Linked DNA regions of Homo sapiens: region 2 is linked to region 1. The links come from fine-mapping of genetic effects on gene expression. A gene starts in region 1. The other region holds a variant in brackets. All regions are shown on one strand. Distances are from middle to middle.

Evidence for each region. PIP is the estimated chance that this variant, and not a neighbour inherited with it, causes the effect.
Region 2: its variant is the best candidate, but not a certain one, in a credible set for the expression of MANBA in lung (TOPMed, PIP 0.55).

The regions. Positions count from the first base shown.
Region 1 is chr4:102,757,848-102,763,062 of GRCh38, reverse strand. MANBA (mannosidase beta) reads left to right here and starts at 2,095. Exons shown (of 17, transcript NM_005908.4): 1 at 2,095-2,345. The coding sequence starts at 2,169. RefSeq lists a silencer at 1,931-2,060 and an enhancer at 2,151-2,500.
Region 2 is chr4:102,709,836-102,715,050 of GRCh38, reverse strand. MANBA (mannosidase beta) reads left to right here. Exons shown (of 17, transcript NM_005908.4): 5 at 490-613. Among named protein-coding and RNA genes, the nearest start is that of MANBA, 49 kb to the left of the region's middle. The variant T/A (reference allele first, on the strand shown) is at 2,512.

The DNA of each region.
Region 1 (5,215 bases):
AAAATTATCCTATAACAAAATGAAAACATCATGTCATCTGTGCCAATTGCAATTTTAGGAAGAGTACTTATTAGGGCTTTGATTATTCTTTGATGTTCTCTGTTGTCAAAGTGAAGTAACCTAAATGATGTTATGCTTGCATCCTGGAATGAAAGGAGGAATGAGAATCTTCTATTATTGTTTTTCTAAAAATTATATTTCTTAATAAACAGAATATATCCATATGTATCATCAAGGATGAATTTTCCTCTGATTTGGCTTAATGAAATCTCTGGGAATTATGAAAAAATTCCTTTGCCGCTCTTGTTGCCATAAACCTTGTGTTATCAGTGTTGCACAGACCATGGCTAGCCATTTAATGCCGTGAATTATGGCATATAATTTGAATTGAGAGCTTTGTTTCTATCAAAGGTAAAAATGCTTCTGGAGTGAGTGAGGAAGGCTTTGAAGCAGTGAGAGCGTTTCCCCTATAGCATCATTGGGCTCTGACAGTAGGACCTTGAAGAGGAGGGTTCTAATCCTGTCTGCCACTATGTGACAGGCAAGTCACCTGATCTTTTTTTTTTTTTTTTTTTTAGAGTCTTTCTCTATAGCCCAGGCTGGAGTGCAGTAGTGCCATCTCGGCTTACTGCAACCTCTGCTTCCTGGGTTCAAGCGGTTCTCCTGCCTCAGTTTCCCGAGCACCTGCGACTACAGGCACGTGCCACCACGCGCCCAGCTAATTTTTGTATTTTTAATAGAGACAGGGTTTCACCATGTTGGCCAGGCTGGCCTCGAACTCCTGACCTCAAGTGATCCACCCGCCTCGGCCTCCCAGAAGTGCTGGGATTACAGACGTGAGCCACCGCGCCTGGCCCCGATCTCTTTGAACTCAGTTCCCTCATCTGTAAAGCCAGCGGCTTGGGTTGGATAATCCATACTGTCCTTTAAGCCAAGATATTCAGGGCTTGTAAATAATGCTGACTTTGCAAAGTAAGATATTGCCCGGTGTCTGCAGAATCAGGCAATTCCAAGGCCATTGTAAGGCGAAACAAAGCTCAGATTTGATGAGAGAAAATTTCTTTTCAAGGACTTCTTCCGAAGCATAAATATACGGCAGATAGCGTCAACACAGGAGAAAGGCAGTCTATTTTATGCAATGTAAAATTCCGTCTTAACTTCTAGGATTACTGTTACATCCTATTGCAAAAATGGGACTCAGGTAGACCATTTGACTACAAGACCCGAAATAAGTCAGTGGTATTTCTTGGGTACTCTGGCATTGTTAGGGACGATCACATATGTTTACTCATTTTATACTTATAACACCTTGAAAACTTCAAGAAACGGAGATGGAGATTTTGCGGCTTGCCCAGGTCCCACAGCTAGTGAGTGCAGAGGATTTTAAACTCAGCTGCGCGCCTAGTGCAGGTTCCAGAACCTCAGAAACCTCCGTGGGGCTTTATGAAACATAAGGACGCAGGCCGCTAGTAACAATAGCTAACGTGAATGCCTTCTCTGGGCCAGGCTCCATGCTGCATGCTATAGTCGCATTTTCTTGGTTAGCCCTCAGAACAACCTTCTGATGGAGATACTGCTAGTACTTGTTTACTCTTTGAAGGGCGGGGTAGGCTCTGAGACCCGCGAGTTGAGCTGCAGCGGGGTGAGTGTTACGCTACCAGGTAGACGAGGGTCTGTGTAAATTTGGCGGAAGGGAAGTGGTGGGTTGTCTCCCAGTTTGGGTTCTCTGAAGGAGTGAGGGGACTCTCCAGCTATGGTCTCCACGTACAGTCGGTCTCTGATCTCCCGAGGCTTTGTGCCACTGCGCGCCCAGGGATCTTTCTGTCCCAATTACCGTGCAAGATTCTTGCCTCCAGTTGTATGTACTGAGGCGGCGGGAAGAAGCGCCGAGGGAAGGCTCAGACCGCAATGCCCCCCAGCCTGTAGCTATTCTCGGGGGCTGCAGCTCCCGCACCCGCGACGCCCGGCTTTCAGCGGGTGCAGGCGCAGCCTCCTCGTTCCCCTCCCGCCCGCGGCTGCGCCCGGAGAGCGCTCAGCTGACCTAGGGGCGGGGCCGGGGCGGGGACCTAAAGCCTCGGCTACTTCCGAGGGGGTGAGTGGCTTCACCGCCGGTCCCTTGCAGCGCTGCCTTTCGATCTCTCCACATCTCGGTGGCGCGGGATCTCAAGATGCGCCTCCACCTGCTCCTGCTGCTCGCGCTGTGCGGTGCAGGCACCACCGCCGCGGAGCTCAGTTACAGCTTGCGTGGCAACTGGAGCATCTGCAATGGGAACGGCTCGCTGGAGCTGCCCGGGGCGGTCCCTGGCTGCGTGCACAGCGCCTTGTTCCAGCAGGGCCTGATCCAGGTATGGCGTGCGGCCGACCCGCGGCGAGCCTGCGCCCGCCTTCTTCTGGTGCTGAGAGGGGCCCAGGAACCGCCTGGCAGCCCCCAGCTCTGGGCCATTCTCGTCGGTTTGGTAGTAACTTCCCCTTTGCATCTTGTGATCTGCGGGGGGAAATGCCCAAGCTATGGGGTACGGGCTTGACGGAGACTGAGCGACCGACCCATGTTGGGACATCAGTAACTCTGGAAAGGGGAAGTTTAGATAGGGGAACAGTGTTGCTACTAGCAGTTTACTTACTGCAGTCGTTCTCTACTGAAGCGTGTATACAAAGGGCATGCCGTCACTGACAAGCATAAGGTCGGGAATTACTGTCTCTACTGTCTGCACGCCACAGGGGACAACAGCGTTTTGTTAAGTAAGGGTTAACTCTATTGAGTAATGTCTCGGTTTTTTATTTTCGCTGTTAAGCGTCAGGGAGTCAGATTTGGGATTGACGCAGCACAGACGTTGTGGAGAATGACCTACAAGAGTAAAGTTGGGTTTGTCAGTGCTAGTGTGGCTAACAACGGGTAAATAATTTTTAAGGCTAACTTGGTGATGAAGAAAGGTGCTATTTCCTCTCAGGGCGTGTGTGTGTGTGTGTGTGTGTATCCCAATGGAGTCTCCAATTTACAGACTACTTGTGGGGAACGTTTTCGTGTTTGGCTGCCTGTGCGCATAGGTTTGCAAACTGACTTCCATCCTCCAACTGCTTTTGCTGTTCCCTCTTGCACAGCGTTCCCACGTGTTGTCTTTACTTGGGGCAAAATGTACTTGTAATTGATCTACTTGTGGGATGCATACATTGTCCAATCCTCATAACAACTCTGTATAGTAAGTGTTCATATCTGAATTTTATGGATAATATGGAATTATGGAACACAGAGAAATTAGGAAGGTGACAGCAACTAAATGGAAAGAAATGGAATTCTAACCCAGGTGGTCTCAACTCCATAGCCTGGTCTCTATACTATGTGGTATGCTTAGTTTGGTGTTTTAAAAAATCATGTGTTTTTGAAGCACTGTGGCTGACTTTCAGGAGCACCATTCTAAGTTTATTTGCATGACAAGGTGGTCATCTAGGGTTGTGCCAAATTTCTGACCTGGTACTTAGTAGTTTTTTTTTTTTTTTTCCTGAGATGTGTATCAGAAAGGAGGTGAATGTTGTAAATGACATTGACCATTGTCCGATGTATTTTTAGAGTAGATCATTCCCAAACTTTAGTACTTTATTTTAAGTTGACAAACTACTTGTGATAGAGAACACAGCTGACCACAGTATACTCTGAGTTTTCACTTATATCTGCTTTGAGAATGCCTGTGTTTATTTTGTAGGGTTCCTCCTTGCCTGATTTTACTGAAATAATTAAGCCAATGGGTGCTGGTACGTGAGAGCTTTGGGAGGCCAAGGTAGGAGGATCCCTTGAGTCCAGGAGTTCAAGACCAGCATGGCCAACATAGAAAGAGTCTATGAGGCCGAGGTGGGAAAATTTCTTGAGGCCAAGAGTTCAAGACCAGCATGGCCAACATAGAGAGATTCTATCTCTAAAAAAAAAAAAAAAGAAAGAAAGAATTAAGCCAATGGGAAATAATGAGTGGCTTCAGTAAGTCAGATTATTGTGCCATATTACAGAGCTAAGAAGCTAAGAAACAACGTTTGGTTACAACAGATACTTAATGAAAATGAATTTGCTCATAGTATGAAATAACTTCCTCATAGGAACAATTTGAAGAGATTTCTTAACTCTCTTCATAAATTCTTAGCAAAACCTTGAGGTTTCAATCAGGTGGCCATGGGTCTCAAATGGCAGTGGAATGAGAAATGGGAAGGCTTTTGGGGCTTAGGAAACACAAGGCCTGTTGAAAATAATCATCAGGCTGGGCACAGTGGCTCATGCCTATAATCCCAGCACTTGGGAGGCAGAGGTAGGTGGAGTTTAGACCAGTCTGGGCAACTGGCGAGACCCTGTCTCTACAAAAAATTAAAAAATTAACTGGGCGTGGTGGCGTACACCTGTGGTCCTAGCTACGAGGGAGGCTGAGGTGGGAGGATCGTTTGAGCCCAGGAGGTTGAGGCTGCAGTGAGCCGTGATCTGTACTCCAACCTGGGCAACAGAGTGACACCCTCTCTCAAAAAAAAAAAAAAAAGAAAAAAAGTAAAGAAGCAATCATCAACATCAGATCAGTATCGTTATTCAGTAATGTGAGACTGTTGTCCGACCTGCTTTATTATAACATCCCTTTTTGGTGTTGACTTGAGGAAATATTCTACCGTTTATAGTAGACACTGGGCCAAATATTGTGTTTGTGTAAGAACTTGAAACATATCTTGGTGATATCATTCATTTATTTATCTATTCACCTAGTTAATTATCTCATATTTATTTTGTACCTCTAATGTGGCAGGCACTATTCTAAGTACTTGAAATCGAGTGGTAAAGAAAACAAAGTCCTTTCCCTAATGGACATTCTAATGGAGGAGATAGACATATATACCAAATTAATAAATAATGTAAGGCAGGTGGCACACTGAAGAAAAATTGAGCAGGTTAAAGGAAGAGACAGTGAAGGCTGGTTGGAAAGCATTGCTATTTTTTAAAAAGTGGTTCAAGATAGGTATTTTGATAAGGTGACTTCTAAACAAAAAGACCTGTTTGAAAAGGTCACTTTTAAGGAGAAGTGCATTTCCAGCAAAGAGGAAAAACACAGGAGTGGGGAGGATAGAGGCCCTGAGGCAGGCACGAGCTTGACAAGTTTCAGGAATAGTCAGCAGGCCAGTGTGGCTGGAGACCTGGGAACCAGAGGGTAGGAGAGGAGTTCAAAGTCTAGGGCACATCATGAAAGGCTGTGAG
Region 2 (5,215 bases), 48 kb after region 1:
TGGTTGGGGGGCACACACAGTTTTGCACTAACTTGTGGTCCCCCCAAATTCATATGTTGAAGTCCTAACCTCTGGTATCTCAGAATGTAATCATATTTGGAGAAGGTCTTTAAGGGGTGATTAAGATAAAATGAGGCAGTTAGTGTGGGCCCTATTCCAATACAACTAGTGTCCTTTTAAGAAGGGGACATTTGGACAATGGAGAGAGACACCAGGGATGCCTAGCACAGAAAAAGACCATGTGAGGACACAGTGCAAACAGAGGAGATCGGCTTCAGGAGGAACCAAACCTGCTGATAGCTTGATCTTGGACTTCACTGTGAGAAAATACATTTCCATTGTTTAAACCACTTAGTTTGTGATACTTTGTTATGGCTGCCATAGCAAACTTATATACACATATGTAACATTTTTAAAGAAAATGTTTTTCATAATGTTTAAATTTCACCATAATCAGAATATATCTTCTTTTTCTCCTTGAAATTGCAGGAGCAATGTTCCTTTAGTTGGGACTGGGGGCCTTCCTTTCCTACCCAGGGAATCTGGAAAGATGTTAGAATTGAAGCCTATAATATTTGTCACCTGAACTACTTCACATTTTCCCCAATATATGGTAAGCTGAAAGATGTGATTTTTTTTTCTTTTTGAGTCTTCTTGTTATAAAAATTGGGTTTATAATTGAAATACAGAGGTATGTTTTTCAGAGATTTAGAATTTTTAAAAACTTTGTGGTACAATCAATTTATAAAAGTAAAAAATAGGTACAAACTGATTTTACATGAAAATTGACAATATAAAGCAGATATGTAGGTAGGTATCTTTTAGCATATTTTACAGAAAAAGGAAAAAATAAAATGGAAGAGCAGCGCCAAGTTTTCCTGAGATAAGTATTCTTTCTTGAAAGAACTGGGCCTGCTGGCTGTGCTCCTTTTTGCTGCCTCTGTAGTCACTTTTAGTGTCAAATTCTTGCTTTGCTCACACCGTTAGACTGGCTTTCTGTCTCTGTACATTTTCTTCATAACCCAGAGCACTACTCTGAGGGCCCTGACACAAGGGCCCTGACACAACAGCCTTGTGAAGAGTTAAAAATAAACTGGAAGGTAAACAGGGCAAAAGAAAGATTTCTTTTCTTTTCTTTTTTTTTTTTTTTTTTTGAGATGGAGTTTCACTCTTGTTGCCCAGCCTGGAGTGCAGTGGCACAATCTTGGCTCACTGCAGCCTCTGCCTCCCGGGTTCAAGCGATTCTCCTGCCTCAGCCTCCTGAGTAGCTGTGATTACAGGCATGTGCCACCACGCCCAGCTAATTTTGTATTTTTAGTAGAGATGGGGTTTCTCCATATTGGCCAGTCTCGAACTCCTGACCTCAGGTGATCTGCCCGCCTCAGCCTCCCAAAGTGCTGGGATTACAGGCGTAAGCCACTGCGCCTGGCCAAAAGAAATATTTCTAAGGTGAAAAATAGTACTTTTTAAGTTGAAGCAACTATTCAATATCAAGGAGCATTGAAATAGAACCTCAGAAATCTCACAGATGTCAGTGGATAAGTTAAAAGCTGGTTAAATATTTGTTGCTTTCTTTGCTCAGCGCTGTGTTTATTTGATAAAAGAAATAGAGTAGGTACACTGATCCCTTCATGTGTGGGGAGGGGAGATACAAACAATTACCAAACAAAACAAATAACCTTCCAAGATAAGAGCCAGAAAATCAAAGATCAGTGAGGATTTGAGAAGTTAGGGAAATGAAGGATGAAGATGGAGGCAAGTGAGATCTTAAATGAGAGCGTGCAATGCTCAGTGTAATCACACGGAGGCCTAACTAGATGAAATCAGTAAGAAAGAATGTGGTGTGTCAGTTCAAGAGTTCTGTTATCTTGAGAGCCCTGGTGACCTTAGCTTGCTATTCAATTGAGCCAAATCTGTATTTTCTGAAGGCAGAAGATGAAAGCAAATGATAGATGCTTAGATTTGAGGAGGTTATTTGGTGCTGTTGGTATTTTTAAACTTTAAAAAGGCATTAAAAGATCTAATTTAAATTGCACATGTAAATGTGGCTGTGCTTATAATTCTCTAGTTTAGTGCTTCCCAAACTATTCTTCTGAGGTGTAATCCAACTAAAGATTTTCGCTACTAAAATCAAATAATGGTTTAATCTCCCTTCATCCCATGCTACCACCCATACGTTTTCTCAGGTATAAATAACAGAATCTGGTGTGAGAAGTGGTCTGAGCTGAGCGCAGTGGCTCATGCCTGTAATTCCAGCACTTTGGGAGGCCAAAGTGGGTGGATTCCCTGAGCCTAAGAGTTAGAGACCGACCTAGACAACATGGCAAAATCCTATCTCTGACAAAAAATACAAAAAATACAAAAATTAGCCAGGCCTGGTGGCGTTCACCTGCAGTCCCAGCTACTCGAGAGGCTGAGGTGGCAGGATCGCTTGAGCTCAGGAGGTAGAGCTGCTGTGAGTTGTGATTGTACCACTGCACTCCAGCCTGGGTGATGGAGCGAGATGCTGTT[T/A]AAAAAAAAAAAAAAGTGGTCCGATTTAGCAAAAAGTTATTTATTTATTTTGAAGCTTAATCAGTATTTTGGGTGGTCTGCAAAATGCATTATAAGCTCTGGGTACCCTGATGCCTGAAAAAAATTTGAATAATACTGCTCTGGTTTAATTTACAATTTGAATATGAAACTAAACATTTCTTCCTGAGTTATTAGAGTTCACTTTATTAGTCACTAGTGACTGAGTGAATTTTATATGAATTAATTTAAATGATGCTTAAAATTCAATTTAGATTCAGTGTAAACAGTTCCTCCTCTCAACTACATTGGTGAAGGTTAAATACATTTTTTAAATTGACACGTAATATTTGTACATATTTATGGGGTATGTGTGGTATTTTGTTACATGCATAGAATGTGTAATGATCAAGTCAAGGTAATTCGGGTATCTATCACCTCTAGTATTTATCATTTCTCTATGTTGGGAATATTTCAAGTCCTCTCTTCTAGCTATTTTGAAATATACCATACATGTTGTTAAGTATAGTCACACTATTATGCTGTCAAACATTAGAACTTATTCCTTCTATTTAAATGCATGCTTGTACCCATTCATCAGCCTTTCTTCATTCCTCTCTGCCACTCATATACCCCTCCTAGCCTCTCGTCTCTATTATTTCACTCTCTACCTCCATGAGATCAACATTTTTACCTCTGACATGTGAGTGGCAAGATGCAAAATTTGTCTTTCTCTGTCTAATTTCACTTAACATAATGACCTCCAGTTCCATCCATGTTGCTGTGGAAGACATGATTTTATTCTTTTTTAGCCATTCATCTGTTGATGGACACTTAGGTTGATTCTATATCTTTGCTATTGTGAATAGTGCTGCAGTAAACATGGGGTGCAAGTATCTTTTTGTTATACTGATTTCTTTTTCTGTGGATAGTTACCTATTAGTGGGATTCTTGGATTGTATGGTAATGACTCTACTATTAGTTTCTTGAGAAATATAGTATTTCCATTGTGGCTGTACTCACTCATATTCCCACAACCGTGTATAAATGTTTCCTCTTCTCTGCATCCTCTCCAGCATCTATTATTTTTTGTCTTTTCAGTAATAGTCATTCTAACTGGAGTAAGATAGTATTTGTGGTTTTGATTTACAGTTCCCTGATGATTAGTGATGTTGACCATTTGTGCATATACCTGTTGGCCATTTGTATGTCTTCTTTAGAGAAATGTCTATTCATGTCCTTTGCCCACTTTTAAATGGGGTTATTTGCTTTTTTACTGTTCAGTTGAGTTCCTTGTGTATTCCAGATATTAGTACCTTGTCAAATGAATAGTCTGCAAATATTTTCTCCCATTCAACAAGTTGTCTCTACATTCTGTTGAATGCTTCCTTTGCTGTGAAGAAGCTTTTTAGTTTAATATAGTACTATTTGTCTATGTTTATGTTTGTTATCTTTGCTTTTGAGGTCTTAGCTATAAAAATCTTTGTCTAGATCGATGTCTTGAAATGCTTCTCGTATGTTTTCTTCTAGTAGTTTTATCGTTTCAGGTCTTATGTTTAAGTCTTTAATCCATCTTGAGTTTATTTTTATTTATGGTGAGAGATAAGAGTCCAGTTTCATTTTTCTGCTTATGGATATCCAATTTTCCCCGCACCATTTATTGAAGAGGATTGAAGAGGGTATTCTTTCTCCAATGCATGTTCTCTGACCAAGATGCCTTTGTGAAAAATCAGTTAGTTATTAATAAGTTGGTTTATTTCTGGGGTTTACACTCTGTTCCTTTGGTTTATGTGTCTGTTTTCAGGTAGTGTGATGCCTTCTTTTGACTCAGGATTGCTTTGGTTGTTTGAGCTCTTTTTTGGTTCCATATGAACTGTAGGATTTTTTTTCTATTTCTGTACAAAGTGACTTTGGTATTTTGATAGTGATTGCATTGACTCTGTAGATTGCTTTGGGTAGTATGGTGGTCATTTTAATGATATTAATTCTTCCAACCCATGAGCATGGGATGTTTTTCGATTTGTTTGTGTGACCTCTTCAATTTATTTCATCAGACGTTTATAGTTTTCCTTGTAGAGGTCTTTCACCTTTTTGGTTACATTTATTCCTAGGTATTTTATTTTTTGTAGCTATTGTAAATGGGATTGCCTTCTTGATTTCTTTCTCAGCTAGTTCATCATTGATGTGTAGAAACACTACTAATTTTTGTATGTTGACTTTGTGTCCTACAAATTTGCTGAATTTATTTATCAGATCTAAGAATTTTTTTATGAATCTTCCAAGTTTTTGCAGATGTAAGAGCATGTCATCTGCAAAGAGGAATAATTTTACTTCCTCTTTTCCAATTTGGTACCTTTTATGTTTTTCTCTTGCTTTATTGCCCTGGATAGGACTTCCAGCATTTTATTGGATAGGAGTGGTGAACGTGGGCATCTTTTTCCCATTCTAGTTCTTAGAGGAAAGACTTTCAGCTCCTCCTCATTTGGTGTGATGTTAGCTCTGGGTTTTTATATATGGCTTTTATTATGTTGAGGTATGCTCCTTCTATGACTAATTTGTTGATAGTTTTTATCATGAAGGGATATTGAATTTTATTAAATGCTTTTTCTGCATCTGTTGAGATGATCATCTGTTTTCTGTCTTTCATTCTGTTGATGTGATGTATCACGTTTATTGATTTGTACAAATGTAAGATCCTTGCATCCCT